Linked DNA regions of Homo sapiens: region 1 is linked to region 2. Evidence: fine-mapped expression QTL. Tissue or cell type: whole blood. Region 2 holds a variant in brackets; the other region holds the start of a gene. All regions are shown on one strand. Distances are from middle to middle.

The links. PIP is the estimated chance that this variant, and not a neighbour inherited with it, causes the effect.
Region 1: LYRM9 starts here. The variant in region 2 is fine-mapped to the expression of LYRM9 in whole blood (TOPMed, PIP above 0.99).

What each region holds. Positions count from the first base shown.
Region 1 is chr17:27,888,304-27,898,820 of GRCh38, forward strand. It overlaps LYRM9 (LYR motif containing 9), which reads right to left and starts at 5,062. Exons shown (of 4, transcript NM_001076680.3): 1 at 5,014-5,062. RefSeq lists enhancers at 1-731, 732-1,683 and a silencer at 4,694-5,243.
Region 2 is chr17:27,851,488-27,862,004 of GRCh38, forward strand. LOC124903961 (a long non-coding RNA gene) reads right to left here and starts at 5,242. Exons shown (of 2, transcript XR_007065681.1): 1 at 4,975-5,242; 2 at 3,110-3,517. The variant G/T (reference allele first, on the strand shown) is at 5,266.

The DNA.
Region 1 (10,517 bases), 37 kb after region 2:
TTCATCACCCCTCATTACTCTAGGTCAGGCCTCTAGTTCAGGCTCTTGCTGGGGTTGCTGGAAGGGTATCCACCTGCCCTCAGGCCCCACCAGCCATTCTCCATATGGTGGTCACAGTGATTTACCAACTTCCTGAATGAAAATCTTCACTGGATGTGAAACGATAGTGTGAATTATGAATTTTCTTGGGTTATAAGACCGATGTGGTTATGTGGGAGAATCACTTTACTCTCAGGAGACGCAGGCAGAAGGATTTAGAGGTGACATGTCATCAGGTCTGCAGCCTCCTTTCAAATAGTTCAGCAAAAGACAGCACAGAGAGAAGAGTGAGGAAGATGAAGAAATGCAGCAGAATGTTCAGATCACGTTTAGATGGTAGGCATTAAGGGTGAACACCATGCTGTTATTTTAACTTCCATATATTTGGAAAATTTTCCTAATAAAAAATCGCTTTAAAAACACACCTGGCAGGAAGTCACCCAGCTTTTCTCCCTACATGTGCTCCAAGTGGCAGGAAACTCACAAGTCCCCCATTTTCGCTCTGCTCAAGCTATTGGAAAGTCCCTCCAGTTCTGAGTTAAAATTCCCCGCTGTAAAGTTCTACTCACTCCACAAAGAGCTCTACTCTTTGGGACAAAATCTTCCCTCACCTCCTCCCAAGCCCAGCTTTTCATTATTCACAGTCAACTATCCCAGCCCCTCCCTAGTCCCTTTTCCAATGTAAGCAGCGGGGAGGTGCTGTCGCCTCTCAAAGTGTCTCTGTCCCACTTGCCCTCCTCTCAACACACGTACCTTTATTTTTGATACCACTCTTAAACCTGCTGTCCCATGGGAAAACAACAGTTTGGCCATGCTCTGACCAACTCCACAGGCAGTGGCCCTGTCACCTCCTTTGACCTGGGAATTCAAGGAATGCAGCTCAGACTGCTTCTCTGCTGGGGCCCTCACGTGGCCCTGGCATTTGGCTCAAAGGCATTTTTCCATGTGCTGCTCTTTTTTTCTTTTTTCTTTTTTTTTTTTTGAGACGGCATTTCGCTCTCGTTCCCCAGGCTGTAGTGCAATGGCGCAATCTTGGCTCACTGCAACCTCTGCCTCCCGGGTTCAAGCAATTCTCCTGCCTCAGCCTCCCCAGTAGCTGGGATTACATGTCCATGCCACGATGCCCGGCTAATTTTTCTATTTTTAGTAGAGACGGAGTTTCGCCATGTCGGCCAGTCTCAAACTCCTGACCTCAGGTGATCCACCTGCCTTGGCCTCCCAAAGTGCTGTGATTATAGGTGTGAGCCACTGCACCCGGCTCCATGAGCTGTTCTTAAGTCTCTTTCCCCATCTTTTATTTTATGAGGTCATTCCAGAGTCACAATCTGCCACCATCCTTAGGGGGGTCTGTTATATCAACTCAATTCAACAAAATAAGAGCACAGAAACAGTCACACCCCAGGTAAACACAGGGTAAAGACAAAGAGAAAGACAGTAACCCTATATACTGTAAGCATCAGTCAACTACGCCATGCCATTCAGAGCATCTAGCACCTGTACAACTCTGGACCCAGCCCTAGGACCACAGAGATGAACAGTCTGGTGTACCTAGCTCTCTGACCCAGAGCCTTCTGCAAAGCCGATGGCTCCCATCCAGGGAATGAGTAGGACATGCCAAGTTTGAGAGCTTTTCATGTTACCTCATTTAATCCTCACAACAATATTTTAAGGGAGGTATCATTAGTCCCATTTTATAGATGAGGAAACTGAGGCCCTGAGAGGTTAAGTAATTTGCCAAGAGCAACAAGGCTAGTATAGAGCAAGGCCCGGAATAGAACCTAGGTCTATTTGATTCCAAAGACTATGCCCTTATCTGCTTCGTGAATCTACCTGCTATGTCTGAGCCACTCATAAAAATACTGACCAGATCAGGGCTAAGGACCCCACAAAGAACTCTGGCAGGGTTCATGCATGACCAGGTTCAAGCACTTATAAAGGCACTTGACTGCACTATTATCCAGTACTCCTCAATCTTCTCTACAAAACCTTGCTCCATGCCTTTCTGAAACCCAAGGACATCGTCTGCAGCTTCCCCCTGCATATAGATGGAAAAAAAAAATCAAAAGAAAGAAAGAGTCACCAGGCTGACATCAATTACACAGATAAAGGAAAGGAGCAACTAAAGAAATGCTTAACAACAAAGCTCTTACCAAATCCAAAGGAGAATATGACAGAATTTTTAAAAAGAGAAAATAAAGCTACAAAGGGAATTTCCTGGAAGCCAAGTGTTATCACTGGCACAGATGTTGAGAAGCAGGCCCACAGTCCCATTTAACCCCACTGTCCTTTTCCCTAATCTATGTCCCGATATAGGCACCTAAAAATAAGTGGGAAAAAGTCATATATTAAAAAAAGACGAAAGAATGGAACTGCAGAAAATAACCAGAAATTATGCCCTATTGAGCACTGATACACGCTAAATTAAGCCTGCACAGGCCATTTTTTAAATATGCAATTACTCTTCTTGAAGGGAAAAGTTGAAAAATAGGAATGGAGTGGTTTTGCTTCCCACCCCCACCCACTCCAGGGCTCCATCTTGCACATCTGTGTTCTCCCAAGCTAGCAATGGGGCAGCAATCCCTGCCTCCCCCAGTCCCTCTCCTACATAGCCAAGGCTCTAAAGTCCCCTCACCCCCTCCCTGCCCCCTTCATCCCTGTTGGCATTACCTTGGTTCCCAGCTTTGTACCCATACCTGGCTGGGACTATCCGAATACCTCCTGATCTGTCTCCCTCCTTCCAGCCCAATCCACATGGTGCCACCCAAGAACACTTCCTAAAAAGCACACCCTGTCACTCCCCTTCCTCAGAACCTCTGTAGAGAGTTCTCTACCCATGGCCTTCTGAGATCTGTTTCAATCCCTCTCATCAGTCTCCCCTCCTGCTGTCCTTCCCACACTTCCTGCATTTTAGCCACAGACTGAACTTGGAGGACTCTGGGATCAGACAGTCTGGGTTCAAATCCTGGTTCTATCACCTGCTAGTTCTAGGACCCTGGACGAGTTTCTTAACTTCTATCTCGAAGTCTGTTCCCCATCTGTCAATGCGGTCCCTAATAAATAGTATTTCCTACATAGGACTGTTGTAAGGATGAAATAACGCTCCTAGACTACTAAGCATGATGCCTGGCACACACTACATGTTTCCTACTAACTGTTATTGTTAATACCATCTCTGAAACATGCTGTGCTTTCCCCTACCTTGACTTCTTCACCTGCCTCAAGAATTCCCCTTCATCCTTAGAGATCCAGTTCCCTGTCACCTCCTTCAGGCTTTCATCCCATGCTGTTCACACCCCTATTACAGTCATCACACTGCTCTGTAATCACTTATTGTGATTATAATCGATGTGACAGAACTTAGAGCAGGTTTTGGAGACAAAGAACCCTAGTTTAAAAGCCTACCTCTGCTATCTACTAGCTGTGTAATCCTGGCCAACCTGGTTGACTTCTCTGGACTTCTGCTTCCCCCACTGTAAACTGGAGAAAAGAATAACCCACCTCACAGGGGTTTTGTAAAGACCAACCTAGCTAACTTATGGAAAGTGCCTAGCACAGGGGCTGGCACATCTTAAGTGCTTGAACATCTTTTTTTTTTTTTTTTTGTCCTGAGACAGGGTCTCACTCTGTCACCCAGGCTGGAGTACAGTAGCATGATCAGGGATCACTGCAGTCACAACTGCCCGGGCTCAAACGATTCTACCTCAGCCTCTCAAGTGGCCGGGATCACAGGCACACGCCACCACGTCTGGCTAATTTTTTTAATTATTTATAGAAACGAAGTCTTACTATGTTGCCCAGGCTGGTCTCAAAATTCTAGGCTCAAGTGATCCTCTTTCCTCAGCCTCCTACGGTGCTGAGATTATGGGCATGAGCCACTGCGCCCAGCGTTGAACATCTTACCCTTTCCTACTTTATTTGGCTTTCTGTTCCTTGCTGACTGTAAGCTTCTGAAGAACAAGAAACTATACTGTATTAGTTCAACACCTGTGAAATGAAGGGAAATTAGTAAGAAAAATATATATACGGTTATTAGTCACTCCTCCACAGTTTATAGTACCTGAACCATAACAGAAGTTCCATAGATGTCAATTGATTCCCAAGTTACCAGAGGAAACTAAAGCCAGCAGGAAACTGTCCTGAAGTCAAGAACCTATGGCAGGTGAACCCAGAAAACATTACGCTAAGTGAACAAACCCAGTCACAAGGGGCTACTTAATGTATGATTCCATTTATACGAAACATCCAGAATAGGCAAAAGTACAGAGACAGAAGTACATTGGTGGTTGCCTAGGGCTGGGAGAATGGGAGTAGATGGGAGGGGGGAGTGACAGCTAAAGGAGGTGTTTCTTTTGGGGGGTAATGTTCTAAAACATTATGGTGACAGCTGCACAACTCTGCAAACACACTAAAAGACACTGAATTGTGCACTTTAGATGGGTGAACTGTATGCTTCGTGAATTATATCTCAATAAAACTTTTTAAAACAATAACCACAAAAAGGATCAATCCTAGGAGCGAAAGGGTTTTGGCCACGGAGCAACTTGCTCTTACGCAGAAGCATAAATCATCACGACAAGGTTGCTCCGGCCACCGGGTGCCGCGGGCAGAGGGACGGTGGAGGGGACATTCTCCTTTTAAAAGTGGCCAGGCCCGTGAGCCTCTGAGAGGCTGGCCTCCGGGCTGCCCCGGACCTCGCGCCCCTAGCTCGCGCTGCAGGCCTTTCCTGCTCCTCCGAGGCCGCCCGGCCAGGCCTGCGTCAAGCCCGGGCGCCGCGCTCCGGTGCACTCAGCTCTCCGGTGGAAGAGCGCAGACCGCAAGGGAAAAGGTGCCGGCGCGGGTCGCCCCTAGGTCTTCAATAGATCCGAGGACACCCGAGGCCTCCACATCCCTAGCCCGCCCCCGCCACCCAGTGGCTCCGGCCGCCGCTGCCCCCGCGCCCCCGCCCTCGGCCTCGGCCTGCGCAGCGCGGCTCACCAGCCTCCAGGGGAACGCCAGCCCCGGACGCCGCCGCGGCGACGAGTGCGCCTGCGCCCCGGGGACTGAGCGGCACCGCCCCTGCCCGGCGACGGTGAGCCCAGCGCCCTCTGCCGGCCGCGCGCGGGACTCGGGGTCCTACTGGGTGCCTCTTCCTAGATCCGACCCCACCCAGTTGAAAGCTGTCCCCACTAACAGCCTTCGTTACCTGTTACCTCAAACACCCACTCTGCCTTCTGGCTGTTGCTACGCCGGATATAAGCCCTAAAGGCACTCTCTCCTCCTTATTCCTGAATATGGATTGTGCTATGAATATGGGGTGTTCAAGATCTCTGAAAGGCTTGCTGGAGGACTTTTCCTGAACCTCTCGTGTTGATGACAAGAATTGTGTTTGGATAGGAATCTGCGTTTTGAATCATTTCACCAAATTACAGTCCCATAACACCTGTCAAAAGAATAAATATGACAGTAATAAGCATGCTTCCTTTCAGACCCATCTATAATTATAATTGAGGAAAATAATACAAAATTTAAACTTAGAGCTACTGCCAGTATCATTCTTTGAAAATGAAATAATGCTGTTTATTAAATAGGCTCTCCCTGCTCTCTAATGTTTAAAGCTCAAGTGCTTCTCTGAATTGATTTAAATACAAGTTTTATATCCTGAAAGAAATCAAGATGAGTCATTATCTTAAGACAAACCCCCCTGTTCAATGATGCTGCTGATCTCTCAGCTGATGTCTAAGCGGGAGTTAGGTTGTTAGTGGATAATATTGCTTCTGTTCACGTCTCTCTTCTCCAGGGCTTTTTAAACCTGTTTGTAACGAAAAGGCTGATTTCCTTCAGACTCCATGTGTCGTTGATTTAACAGGACAACTTCTTACAGGTTTTTCTTTTTCCTTTTTCTTTTTTTTTTTTTAAGTAAAACATTGCTCCCCGGTGGCACCTGGGAATCTGTTTTTCTTCTCTTAGGATAAGAGAAGCAGGGATATTTCTTAACGGAAGTTTTGTTTTGTTCCTAACTCCCTTTAGAGCTTCCTCTTTTCTTTTTTTTTCTCTTCACCTAACATACTAGACTTCCCTCAAATCGGGGGTGGGGGATGGGAAGGTGGGGTTCCCTCCCTTGAAATATTCAGATAATTGCTTCCATTTATTTTAAAGATGTAGACTTGGACAAATATATCTGAAAGATACAATTGTACCCTCATAAATCAGCCCTCTTATTTACACATGCATAATCAAGGGCACGTCATTAATGCAGAGCCAATCAATAAATCATTAAGCTTTTAAAGCCCTTATTAAGAACAATCTGCAGTAACATCATCCACTCCTGTGCTCAGTCTTAGGATCATTTAATAATTTTAAGAAATTTCACAGTCTGTTCTGTAGTCTCATCTCCCTTTTGTTCCTAGATAGCTGTATTCCTGCATCAGAAACATGGTTCTAATACCTAGATCTCATAAAATATTGAAGATGCAAGCTGTTTGCTTTACCTCTGAAAGGCTCCACCTTCAGAATCACTTGTGCCTCTTCCAATTTTACAAACGCACAAGATTTTAACTTTCACAACAATTTCTTATAAACATCCAAATACTAAGAAAAAAAAATCCAAAGTAGGAGAGATTTGAACAATAATCTCTAATTTTTTTTCCAAGTCACAATGGAAACCTAGATTTGAAAATAATTGAATTTGAACCTTTCAACTTGACAGCAACCTTAGGTTCTTACAGCTTCAATAGTAAAATGAAATAATTTTTACTAGTCCAAACATTCACTTAAAATGACACCAGTCTCATAATCTGATAAAACCCCAACCATTTTTACCATGTCATTTTCCTATACACTGAAATTTTAGCAGATGAACCCCCTTATGTCAGACAGTGCATGATATTTACAGATAAACAAAATAGAAAGACCTTTTACTTGAGAAATTAGTCACCCACTGTCCAGGGGACATGTTCGCACAGGGGAGTTTATTGACTTTCCTAAGAAATACACCACATTCTCTTGATTTCTGACATTATGTCATTTAGCCTGACAACTGCAGATTTGTAACCAGTATTTGTAGGGAAAGATACAAGAAGTCCTGACGTTTCCAGTTTAAACCTGTTTTTAGATTTCAAAGAGAAATGATAACGTTTGCATCCTCTGATTAAATCAGGTTATTGTCTCCAAGGGTGACCATGTAAATAATTCAAATTAATTCATCAGTGTACAATAGGTTTAATAAGCATAATAAACACTTTTAAGAAAATACTTAAGACCCTCGGTCTGCCCTCGATCTTGCTCCCTATTATCTCAGATTTCCCTGAGAACAGAATGAGTGGTACCACGTTGTTCTCTTCTATTCAAAATATGCAAAGCTGCTATTTACCAGCTTGCAATTTGCATGTCTCAAATCCTGCCAGAACACAGGGTGAGGGCCATGGGGTGATGGGTGAATATGCCAGAAGAGGACACCAGGGGCGAAAATGGAAAATGGGGTGAACAGATTTTCCTTACCCCAGCGTATTGCAAAACACAACTCTTGCTGACTACTCAAGATTTAAGACAATAAAAATATTGGGTATGAAAGGTTATGTGAAATCTCAGACATCTAGTTTGTTTTTCTTTAATTGCTGGGCAAAAGAAAGGGATGAGCAAGGATTTCAATATTTTTATAAAAGGGAACACAAGAGGAAAAAGGGTACAATTGTGACTATTTACAACATACACTTGGAGATTAATTTATGGGCTGGGTTTCAGCCTTCCTGGTCCTCCATACTATGTTACTTTCTGCAGCACCATAAATCCAACTTTGCTGACTGGTATATGTCATTCTCTGTTTCTAGTGTGTTCTGTAGTAATTTATTAACAGTGACCACATGTGAAACCACATTGGTGATCAGATGTATGTTATCTCTGAATATGTCCCCACTTTTTTTATCTCTTGAAAATATGTTCTATGTCTCATGATTTCAAATTGTAAATAACATACACACATACACATAATGTTTTGTATGAATCACCTTTGGAATGGAATTTCTTTTTCATAAAAATTTCAAGTGCATGCTGGATGTGTATGTGGCAATATTACCAAAGGAGTGAATGCGCTTGGGAACATTCTTCTTTTTTGCATTTTGACAGCATTTGACTAAAGATCCACTTAAAATTACCTTGCTCACAAAGTGTAATTCTGTTTCCACTGACTATATCTGCAGTGTCTTGAGATGTCCAGAGACAAGAATTACATGCCACCATTAATAGGAATGGAGACGGTAAGAAATAATCAACTTTATTAAATAGGATTATTTGAAGAAAGAGGAGAGACAAAGGGGTGAAGAGGAGAAGGAGAGAAAGAAGAAAGTGAAAAGGAGGGAAGTGGAGAATAAGTAAAAGTAGAAGGGAGTTATCCTGTTGATGCTGTCCCCAAGAGAAAGGGATGATAGAGTTTTAAGTGTAGCAGCCCAGAAAAAAAAAAAAAGGCAACGTTAATGAAGGGAAATCATTTATCGGCTTGGCCAGGAAATTGGGTGTTCTGGTCAGTCAACTACATGGTTAATAGTTACCTTCCACTTCAGCAAACATCTGTTGAGACTCCTTCATGTGCAAAACTCCATGCAAGACCCTGGGTCATAGCGGAGGCCTCTGAACTCTATCCCTGCCATGCGGGCTCTCCTGTCCTTCTCCACTATGGTTAGAGACAGGTATAGTCTTGTCGCTGTCCTGCTGTAGTCCCCTTAATGACTTCTCCGTGTTCTCTGAATACATACGCCAAACTCCTTACCATGTCCTATGAGGCCCTCCAGGGTCTGGCCTCTTAAGCTTCCATCCATGTCCCCGTCCTCTGTAGCAGCCACAGTGGCCTTTCAGACACTCATTGTATCGTGTCCTTCTGCCCTGCTCCTCCTTTAGATCCCAGCTAATAGATCTCTTCCTCGCCTTCCCTGACATCCACATTCCCACCCCATAATGGAGCAGGTCCCCCCACCCAAAGAGTAGACTGTACTTTTCTCCATGGCATGCATCACAATTTATAGTTACATATACCCCAATTTGGACTCCCCCCAGAGAGGCCCCCAAAGCAAGGATTTGAGAACAACTAGTTCATTTGAAAGGTGGTTCTAGAAAACACTAAGTGAGAAAATAGGGAAGTGAGGCTGGGTACAGTGGCTCACACCTGTAATCCCAGCACTTTGGGAGGCCAAAGTGGGTGGATCTCCTGAGATCAGGAGTTCAAGACCAGCCTGGTCAACATGATGAGAGCCCCATCTCTCCTAAAAATACAAAAATTAACTAGCCAGGCATGGTGGTGATAGCTTGTAATCCCAGCTACTCAGGAGGCTGAGTCAGGAGAATCGTTTGAACCCAGGAGGCGGAGGTTGTAGTGAGTGCGCCCTTACACTCCAGCCTGAGCGACAAGAGTGAAACTCCATCATAAAAAAAAAAAAGAAAGAAAAGAAAAGAAAGAAAGGAAGGAAGGAAGCGGGGAAGTGAGGCAAGGAAAAGAAGGCAGCCTGTGAAGAGAGCCTTCCCAAGCAAGTTACCACCAGGGACCACTGAGCTTCGTCCTGCTGGGGAAACAGTGTGGAACCCACACCTTGGTTATCCCACCCTGGGGTATTTATACACCAATTCCTGTTTGTTACAGGTCACACAGTGCTCTCGGGGGCACTAACTCCCTGGTACTTCTAGCCTGCCATGATCTCAGGCAAAGAGATACAGATGCTGGCAGTTGGAAATCAGCCGGGTATACTGCAGTGGTAAGGCGAAAGGGTGGGGCACTGACAGTTGTGGTAGTTACATATACATGGACATTTACACATAATACATACATATATATGTGTGGGTACATGTAGATAGATATGCATTTGTGTTATTATATCAGTCATATCTCTCTCTGCACTAGAGCCCCATGAGTGAGAGCTGGGACTGAGTAGCAGTATCCCACCCAGTGCCTAGGCCTCACTTCCTGTGGTCCACCATTAAAATCACTCTCTTACCAACACCCTCAACTCCCTGGTTCCTCTTGGCCTCTGTCACACTCACTCTGGATGAATCTACCATCCTCCTTCTCCAACCTGCACCCAAGCAGATTAATGCTGAGAAAATTACACAACAGAGCTGATGGGTTTTACTTTAAATTTATGATCCAATCCTCAAAGGCATAATGGATGTTGCCTGGGAAGAAAATAACTCTGTTTCTCAGAACTCCTACACCCCACCTCCACCCTCAGTCTCAGCAGAGGACCTCACTGAAAGATAGACATCATCAGATCTTCTTCTCACTCCTTCCCCTTCTTTCCTGATATGCTGTGGAAAGTTTCCTTCTGCCTTTGAAAAACCGGTCCTTGGCTGGGCGCGGTGGCTCATGCCTGTAATCCCAGGACTTTGGGAGGCCAAGGCAGGCAGATAACCTCAGGTCAGGAGTTTGAGACCTGCCTGACCAACATGGAGAAACCCCATCTCTACTAAAAATACAAAATTAGCCGAGCATGGTGGCGCATGCCTTTAATCCCAGCTAC
Region 2 (10,517 bases):
AAATCACTGAGGAACTTTAAAAAAAAAATCAGTACCAAAGCTATACTTACAGATTCTGATTTAATTGGTGTTGGGTGGGACCTGGCATCAGCTCTTAAAGCCCCTCTCCCAGGTGATTCTAGTGTGTAGCCAGGGATAAATAATTGCAGATAATGTGGGTTAGCAAGGGGCAGGCCACCCCTAAACCTAGAGTCTATTGCCATAGTGCCCCATACGAGAAAGAATGTGTTATCCCCACCTTGGATATCTTTTCCAGCTTTATTGAGGTTTACTTGACAAATACAAGTTGTACATATTTAAGATGTACGGTGTGATGTTTTGATGTACGTATACATTGTGAAATGATTACCACTATGAAGCTAATTAACACATCCCTCACTTCACATAGTTACCCGTGTGTGTGTGTTTCCGGAGATATATTCTCTCAGCAAATTTCATTATTATATTGTAATTATTCCAAAGCTGTTTTATGTATGTTTGACCTCCCCAAATAAGGGAAGCTCCTCAGGGACAGGGTCAGAGCCTCCTGTTAGAACATAGCAGGGTTGTGTGGATGGCGTGTCCTCAGTAGATGCTACATGCTCTGGGCTTATCTTCAAACACCTCGCCACACTGGAAGGATCACAGCCTTCTGTAGACATTACATGACAATCCTCAGAAGGAAAAGGGAGGACTGGGGACACCCCCACCATCACCAGACTGGGGACACAGAGGCTTCCCCATTAACAATAATAACTCAAAATGCCCTGAGCTGTGTCCCACATGCTCGTACTTCTGTGAGTTCCCTGGAGGTATTTCATGTATGCCTGTGCTTGAGTCCTCTCCTGCTGAACCCTGGTTTCTCTAGGGACTTGGCACAGAGCACCCCATGGCCACCAGATACCACCATCTTCCATCATATCCTGACCCTGGGGCCCTTGAAATAGCAAAGCTGCAGGGCTTTCTGGTGCAAAGTGGAAGAGAGGGGATCCCTGAACAGTCCACGGAAGCTGGGTAGGTGTGTGAATTTGAGTGAGAGGTCATCAGAGTCGCTGCCCTCTTTCCCTGCCTCAGTCATTCTGAAGGGCCCCTTCTTGTCCATTCATCAACCGTGGCTCCTTCTTTGCTTAGAATGAGTTCTCTGAGGGGAGGTTCCACCATTAATACAAATCAGGTCTGGAAAGCCATCCCATCGGTTTTCCAGACATGCCTGAGCCTTGGGTTGGATTCAAGCTGAGATCACCCCTCAAGTCACAGCAGATACACCAGTGGCAGCAGTCGGCACCTACAGGACAAGCAAGGTGCATCCAGAATCTAAAGATAAGGCTCCCCTGTCAGAGGAAAACCCATACAAGTGAACACTTCATAGATGAAACTGGCCATCTGTAGAAGTGATCTGCCTGATGAGGCAGAAAGGAAAGGGGAGAAAACTAACATTTTCTGAGCACAATTTTCTAGATTTTTTATATATTTTGGCACTGAGTGCTCACAATTCCCTTAGGTAGGTAAAATTATTCCCATTTTATAGATCAAGAAACAGAAATTCAAAGAGATCATGTGGCTGACTTTAATCTCAGGTATATTTGGTGCCACTGATCTATTTTCTGCCCCTCTAGGTTTGCCTTTTCTGGAATGTCAAATAAATGGAATCACACAGTATGTAGCCTATTACTTCTGTAGGTATTTTTGCTTCTTTCACTTAGCGGAAGGCATTTGAAAACAACCCATGTTTTTGTGTGTATCCATGGTCGATTTCTTTCTACCGCTAGGTAGTATTTCATTGTTTGGGTGTGCCACAGTTTGTTTATACATTCCTCAACTAACAGAGATTTGGGTAGCTTCCAGTTTGGGCAATTACAAGTAACTATAAACTATAACTATAGACTATAAATAACTATAAACATTCATGTACAGGTTTTGCATGACCATAGCTTTCATTTCTCCAGGAGTGAAATTGCTGGGCCATATGGTAGATGTATGCTAACTTTACAAGAAACTACCAAGTGGTTTGTAAAGTGTTTGTAGTCTTTTTGCAATCCCACCAGAGATGTATAAGAGTGCTGGCTACTTTGCACCCTAGTTATCATTTGGTATTGTCAATATTTGTTATTTTAGGCATTCTAAGAGATGTATAGTGATATATCATAGTGGTTTTAACTTGCATTTTACTAATTACCAATGATGCTGAGCATCTTTTCATGTGCCTCTTGGTCATCCATATATCTTCTGTGGTGAAACATCTGTTCATGTCTTTTGCCCTTTTTTCCCTCAAAATTTTTTACTGTGTTAAAACACACATACCAAAAGATTTATCATCTTAATGTTTTTAAGTTTACAGTTTAGTGGTTCTAAATATATTCATGATATTGTGAAACTATCCCCACTATCCATCTTCATAACTCTTTCCCTCTTGTGAAACTAAAGCTCTGCACCCGTTGAACAATAACTCCCCATTTCCCCATCCCCCTCGCCCCTGGCAGCCACCCTTCTACTGTCTCTGTGATTTTGACTACTCTAAGTATACCTCATATAAGTGGAATCGTACAGTATTTGTCTTTTGTGAGTGCTTTTGCCCTTTTTAAATGTGCTTGCTTTCTGATTGTTGGATTTTGAGAGCACTTTGTATATTCTAAGACACATGTCATTTATCAGTTATGTAACTTGCAATTATTTATGTCTTTCCATTCTCAGAACAGTGTTTTGTTTTATTTTTGTTTTTCTTGAGAGAGAGTCCTGCTCTGTTGCCCAGGCTGGAGTGCAGTGGCACAATCTCGGCTCACTGCAACCTCCGCCTCCCGGGTTGAAGTGATTCTCCTGCCTCAGCCTCTGGAGTAGGTGGGATTACAGGCGTGCTTCATTCCAGCCACGTGGCCCTTCTTGCTTCCTCTAATATGTCTATTACAGGTCTGCCTCAGGACCTTTGCACTTGCTATTGCCTCCATCTGAAATGCTCCTCCTCCAAATATCCTCATGACTCACTCCTCCATTCATTCTCTGTTAAATGTCACCTTACTTAAGAGACCCTCCCTGAAGACTCTATTTAAATGGCTCCCCAGCTCCATCTTGCTCTGCTGCTCCACCTTGATTTATTTATTCTCATGGCGTATATCACAATCTGACATAACACGTATTTGCTCATTTTTATTTATTTATTAACTGTATATTCCTTCCCCCAACAACTATCAGAATGTCAAGCTGGAGCGAGCAGGAATTTTGTCTGTTTTATGCACTGATGTATCTCCAGTGCCTAGAACAGTGCCTGCACATACTGAACTCTTAATCAAGAGTCCTCGATCTTACTGAACAAACTCAAACAATTATTACAGCGTGCCTACTAGGGACCGGGCACAGTGCTGGGCTTCGGAGATACAACGGAGAGAAAAACAGACATGGTCCCTGCCTTCATGGATCTCACAGTACAGCAAGAAAGACCAATAGTAAGTCATCAGAGAAATAAAATGGGTAATAGTTCCTGGGCCTACAAGAAGTACAGTCGGCCCTAAGTATCTGTAGGTTCCCCATCTGTGCATACAGCCAACTGTGGATAGAAAAATATTTTTTAAAATAAATAAATAACAATAAAAATAACAGTACAACAATAAAAATGTAAATAATAGAATATAACAACTATTTATATGGCATTGACATCATATGAAGTATTACAGGTAATCTACAGGTGATTTAAAGTACACAGAAGGATTGTGTACATTCTATGCAAATACTGTGCCATTTCATATAAGGGACTTGAGCATCCTAGGATTCTGGTATCCATGGGAGGTCCTGGAACCGGTCCTCTACGGATACCGAGGGACAACTGTACACAGAGCTGGGGAGCTTGTAACTTAGTCATAAGGGACCTAGTCATGGAAGTGAGAGAAGGGCTCCCAGAGGAAATGGTGATTGAACTGAGAGCTGAAGAGTGAACAGTGGCTAACCACGTGAGGAACAGGGAGAAAGGGACATCTAGCCATGTGGCATTTCATGTACAAAGACCCCATGCGTGGAAGGAGCTTAGCATGTTTGAAGAACTAAAACATGGTGAGATTGCCTAAGGGTGGTGAGTTGGGCAAGAGGGAGGCTGCAGTGGGGCTGGGGTGAAGGCAGGGCACTCTGGGGCTGGGGCAGGCAAGGTGGCGATGGCCAAGTAGGGACTGGCCTTTACCTTATGAGAAAAGGGAAGCCACTCAAGGGTGAGCTCACCTTTTTAACCACCCAGTGTATGTGGAACATAATAAACACTCAATAAAACACTAGGCTAGGCATGGTGACTCACACCTGTAATCCACGCACTTTTGGAGGCCCAGGTAGGAGGATTACTTAAGCCCAGGAGTTCAAGACCAGCCTGGGCAACATAGTGATACCTCATCTGTAGAAAACAAACAAACAAAAAAGCCTGGCATGGCGGTGCACACCTGTGGTCTCAGCTACTTGGGAAGCTGAGGTGGGAGGATCACTTGAGCTCAGGAGGTCAAGACTGCAGTGAGCCATGATTGTGCCACTGCACTCCAGCCTGAGCAACAGAGTGAGACCCTGTCTCAAAACCAACTAACTAAATAACTAACTAACTAAATAAATAAAACACTTGTATGTTGAAAACACTCTTAGATGTTAGTGGCAGTGTAAACTGGTCCCATTTCTCTGTAGGGCAATTTCAGCACATCTTTCAAAATTACAAATGTGTATACATTTTCACTTAGCAATTCTGCTTATAAGAACTTATCCTACAGATGTTTGCCCATGTATGAAAAGACATTTGTACAGGGTTATTCACTGCTGTGTTGCTTATAATAGTAGAAGAATGTAAATAAACCAGCTGTCCCTTAATAGGAGATTACTGAAAAAGTTGTGATATCTCTATGCAGTGGACTAATATGAACCATAAAAAAATGAAGACTTCTATGCATTGTTTTGAAAAGAACTCCACGATATATTAAGTTTTTAAAAATCAAAAAAGAGAGCACCAGAAGAAAAGATGTACAGTTTTTCTATACATACCATATCTCTGAAAGGAGGCATAAGAAACTGGTCTGTTACTTCCCTCTAGGGAGGGAAATCAGACAATTGGGACTGGGTTAGGAGATCCTTTTACTGAATTCTGAACCAGGCAAATATCTTACCTATTCTATATAACAAAATAAATTTACATGATAGGAATTATGGATTAAATAAACTAATGAGTTAGAAAATTAATTTATCTTTTAAACAGCTTTCAGCCAAAACTCCCCTCTGCTATTCAGACAGAAAGGATTTAGGGAGTCCTGGCCCCTACCCCACTCTCTGATTCCT[G/T]ACACAGCCCCCAAAGGGAATCCACCAACAGAGGGGCCTTTGGAAAGGGAGGTTGGATGAAAGTATTTGTTTTGGTCAATTGCATCATTTCCAGGAAAGGGCCTCCATTTTACCTTGAAATCAGGCTGTCTCAGGACCCCACAGAAACACAGTTCGGGGACTTTCCCAAACTTGTTTAATTAGGCTTCTTGCTGAAAAGCTGCGCTGTGGGTCTCTAAAGCAGTAACTGGCCTCTAGAGATGCAATCATCTCTCCACAGGGAACTCTCATGAAAAAGTCTGATACTCAGTGCTTTCCTGAATAAAAATAAGCATCCAAAAGTATTTGCAATATCAGGAAAAGCAGAACAAAGCGGGTAAGGCTGGAATGTCTTGAGCTTCTCAACTGCAATGACCAAAGAGTTGATCTGTGAGTTCTGATTAAATTCCAGTAAAAAGGGCACTTGACAGTGAGGGCCACTCAATTTCATCACCCTGGCTTGATGACAGAGGATGAAAGAGAGGCCAGGGGCTCACCTCCAGAAGGAGTTTCCTGTCCCTCTGGGTGGGGGAAGTAGGCTCCCGGTGCTGATGAAGGGAGGCTGCTGTGAGCTGTGCCCTGGAGTCCCCTCTAGGAAGTCTGAGGCACAGACCAGGAGAGAGGGCCTAGGAGGGACCAGTAAAGGACGAAGCAACAGAAAAGAGTGAGAATAAGTGAAGGATGGGAATCTTCAACCCGCAGCCTCTGTTTGTTCTATAAAGTGGTCATTTGTATAACAATTCTATGGAGAAGGATTACTGCCCTCAGCCCCCACCCCCATTCTACTGATGAGGAAACTGAGGCTGAGACAAGTGTACTCGCTTGCCTAAGGTCTCACACCTCACTAGTGTCCAGGTCAGGATACGAGCCCAGGTCACTCTGATGCCAGGATCCCTTCTCTTGCTTCCAGGGCAACTTTAATATAATCAGAAGAACCCATGTTTGAGTCAACAATAAACATTTAGCTCTGAAGAAACTGTGCCATTTTCCTTTTAAATATTATATCTTAATATGCTATTGGTACAGGCGAATAATTTCCACCGCAAAAACAAAGAAGATGAATTCCTCTTTTTTTCTTTCCTTCTCGCCTCTCCTATGAGCTGGAGGGGGAAACTCAAGTCCTTTTACCAGTTGACAAGACAAAAGAAAATACCCAAGATCCCCAGCATAGCCAGAGTTCCTCTTGGAGGCAGGATCAGACTGCTGCAGCCACTTGGGCCATTCTAGATGCCAAAAGCTTTCCTCAGGGACAACATTTGGAGTCAACACCAGTATATTTTCCTTGCTGGGGCTTTCTATAAACTGTGTCTTTCGCCTCACCTGAAGACAAAACTGGGGAAAACAACCTTACCTTAGCCATGCAGACTTGGATTAGACACAGCAAAGAACTTCCTGACAATGAGTGATGGATGTGGGATCAAAATATGGGTAATTAAGGAAGGACAGACTTGGAATAAGTTGGTTGGTGATATGGTTTGGCTGTGTCCCCACCCAAATCTCATCTTGAATTGTAGCTCCCATAATTCCCACATGTTGTGGGAGGGACCTGGTGGGAGATAACTGAATCATGGGGGCATTTTCTCCCATACTGTTCTCGTGGTAGTGAATAAGTCTCATGAGAGCTGATGATTTTGTAAGGGGTTTCCCCTTTCGCTTGGCTCTCACTTTCTCTCTTGTCTTCTGCTGCGTAAGACATGCTTTTCACCTTCCGCCATGATTATGAGACATCCCCAGCCACAAGGAACTGTGAGTCCATTAAACCTCTTTTTTGTTATAAATTACTCAGTCTTGGATATGTCTTTATTAGCAGCATGAGAACAGACTAATACAGTTGGGAATGTGCCGTGCGTGTAGTCTAGACTTAGTGGATTGAGGTTGAGCTGATTTGTTGATTATCTCTCACCATCTCCTGCAAGCACCCTGCCATCTAGTCTGAGTCTCCTCCCAGGCCCACATTTAATTATACCTCTAGCTGACCCCACCATCTGAAATGCCTTCTCCTCAGGTGAGACAGGACTGCCTCAATCCTGTCTGCCTTTCAAGGTATAGCTCAATTTCCTGGGTCTGCTCGAAGCTTTCTCTGACCACTCCAGCCCATATCAATCTGCCCCTCGGAATTCTAGGTAGTCTGGGCCTTAGTCATGGTCATCTGGGTAGAGGGTAGCTGGTTCCTGGGAAGCCGGATGGGGGTGTTGTTATCAGAGAGAGAGGGAAAGGGCACGGGAGAGAAGAAGGAGTGACTATCATAGCTGTCTATCCTGAAACACAAGCTACATGATGATTGTCCACTCTGCCATGAGCCTGCCACACCAACCACATGACAGCTGTCCACTATGCCATGAGCCTAGCTTGCCTAGCTTAGCTACAAGACAACTGTCCATGCTGCTGTGAGCATGCCACACCAGTCACATGACAACTGTCCGGTTTGCCTCGAGTCTGCCACATGCAATCATTTGACCCACATTTACCTTCCAGGTGGGCTCTTCTGGGAAGAGGGGTCCTGAAAGCACACATACATATTTGCCAACAACATTTCCCAAACAATGTCAAATCACGAAGTTAGCACTCTGAGGCACACTCATGTTATGTTGGTTTGCAGCACAGCTAGCTTCTCTAGCATCCAATCACCCTGCTACAGTTATATGTTACCGCTTGAAAGATGCACTCGCATATAAGATTTCGTTTTATCCTCATAACAACTCCATAAAGCCCATCTTATAGATGAGAAAACAGACTCAGGCAGAGTGGGTGGTTTGTGCCAGTTCACATGGCTAAAAGGCAGCAGAACTAGCACTAGAGTCCAACCTCTTCAGCCCTTGGCCAGGGCACTTTTCATGATACCATCCATGCTCATCCCCAACTCTGCCCCCACGAGGTGCACACAGAGTGGGCATTCCCTGTATTACCAATTGACAGGTGACCAGCTGGTCAATGTTGGTGCCAGTTAGAATTCCGACTTCTGACCATAACACAGAAATACTCCTACTCATTCACATATTGGTCTCGCATTAGTATTCTATTGTCCATATACCCTATACGAGAGCATCAGATTCACCTCAATTATTTCCTGCAGTTCACACCAAAAGCAGGAGATGGACCAGCCCAGCACACCAGGCTCCGGGTGCCATGCACCTTCTGCTATCTAAGCTGAGCCAAGAAACCCCAAACTGTCCATCTCTAGTCACTCGGCTGTCTTGGATGATTCCTGACCTGCCCTCCTTCAGGCTAATCTCAGCCAGACCCCAAGAACTTGACTCCAAGTTTTTGCTAAAACAAGCTTGCCTCTGTTCTCTGGTCTCTCCAGCATCTGACTCTTGGCTTTTCCAGATAGACTTTGGCTTGGTCTTGCTTCCTGGTACCAGAAAACAGGGTGCAATGGGTCTCTACATAAATTAATTAATGTTTTCAAGGTGCTTGGAACAGTGGCTGGCACATAGTAAACACAATATAAGTGTTTGCTATTGTTATACCTGCTTAGAATACTACATCCCAAACACTTAATCCAGGCTTCCCAATCCCTTGGTATAAAGTCCCAAACCATTGCACAGCTCTGGCTGAGCTCTCTGAGGTCATCGTCCATGACTCTCCTCCTTGTGCTCTGAAATACCTCGACTTCCTTTAGGTCCATGAAGATGCTACACCCTTTCCACCATAGAGCTTTGCCTTGCTGTTTTCTCCATTAAAATACTCTTCATTTCCTGACCCCATCCCGCTTCCATCCCCCTGCCCAAAAACACTCATCGTTCAATTCTTAGCTGGAATCTTACTTCCCCTGGGAGATCTTCCCTGTGTCCATTCACCGCTCCACCCATCAAGATTAGGTTGGATCTCCATGTTACACTTTCCTATAGCATCCCTTAGTGATTATTCTAAATGGGCATATAGTTGCTTCTTTCATGTTTGTCTTCCCCCTGGACTGTAAGCCTCATGAGAACAGGAACCGTATTTAAAGATGCATTACTGTCTCCTCAGTGCCTGCCACAATGTTTAGAATGACTAGGGGCTCAAAAACATATTGAATTGTATTGAACTGAATCAAGATGGAATGAAAAATGATAGTGGCATTGATGCCAATGAAAATAATGAACTTAAAGCTTACTGCGCTATTATTTATTTGCTAGATTTGTCATGACCTGCTGAAAACCAGAACCTTGAATCCAATCAGTAATTAAAGGGTGAAGAATGGAGGAAACAAATTATAAAATCAATACTTCTTTGGGCAACAGCATCTTTAACTATTGCTACCATTTCATTCATTAAAGCTGAAAGGGAGAGATGAGGGTCCCGGTTATCAGGGATCAAATGACAACCAGCAAGTTACTCATCCCTGATTGGTCAATCCAGAAGGCGCTGAACTTTGCCTTGTACACAAAGACATTGCCTGGCATTATCAGTGCTGCCATTTGAGGAGTGTTGAGATTATCTTCACCAACCCAAACAAATGTGAAACAATGCACAAGGAAAGTAAAGGGAACAACAGCTCACCCGCCTTTTCACAGTGATGGTTTCTGTCTTCCAGAGCCCAAGGTTCAACTCACTTCCAGTCAACAGGGACCCACCAAGTCCCTCTCTCTGCCTACAACTGTTCATTGAGTAACTTCTAATTTGGATGATGAGCACTTGAGGGCTCACTCCACAACATCCATCAGTCCTGATTGTTCCTAGTAGTTTTTCCCACTGACAGCAGCATCATCTACTCTCTATGAGGTGCCCTCTGGGGTCTGACTCAGGCTGGATGACACAGCTGGGTGATTGATTATTTTGATGCAGACACACAACTTTCTGCAACTGTATTTCTGCCTTCTGCTTCCCAGAGCCAGAACCTTTCCCCTCAACTTTTTCTTTTTACTTCATCCACAGTGGTTGTGTAAGGGGTTTTAGCCACCCATAATTCTATCAGGCCACTCCAAAGCAACCTCATATAAATATGCAGTCCATAAAAAGCAATAAGAGGCCAGGCACAGTGGCTCACGCTGTAATCCTAGCACTTTGGGAGACCAAGGCTAGCAGATCACTTGAGGCCAGGAGTTCAAGACCAGCCTGGCCAACATGGCAAAACCCCATCTCTACTAAAAAAAACAAAAATTAGCTGGGTGTGGTGGGACACCTCTGTAGTCCCTGCTACTCAGGAGGCTGAGGCAGGAGAATCACTTGAACCCTCAAGGCGGAGGTTGCAGTGAACCAAGATCAGGCCACTGCACTCCAGCTTGGGCAACAGAGTAAGACTCTGTCTC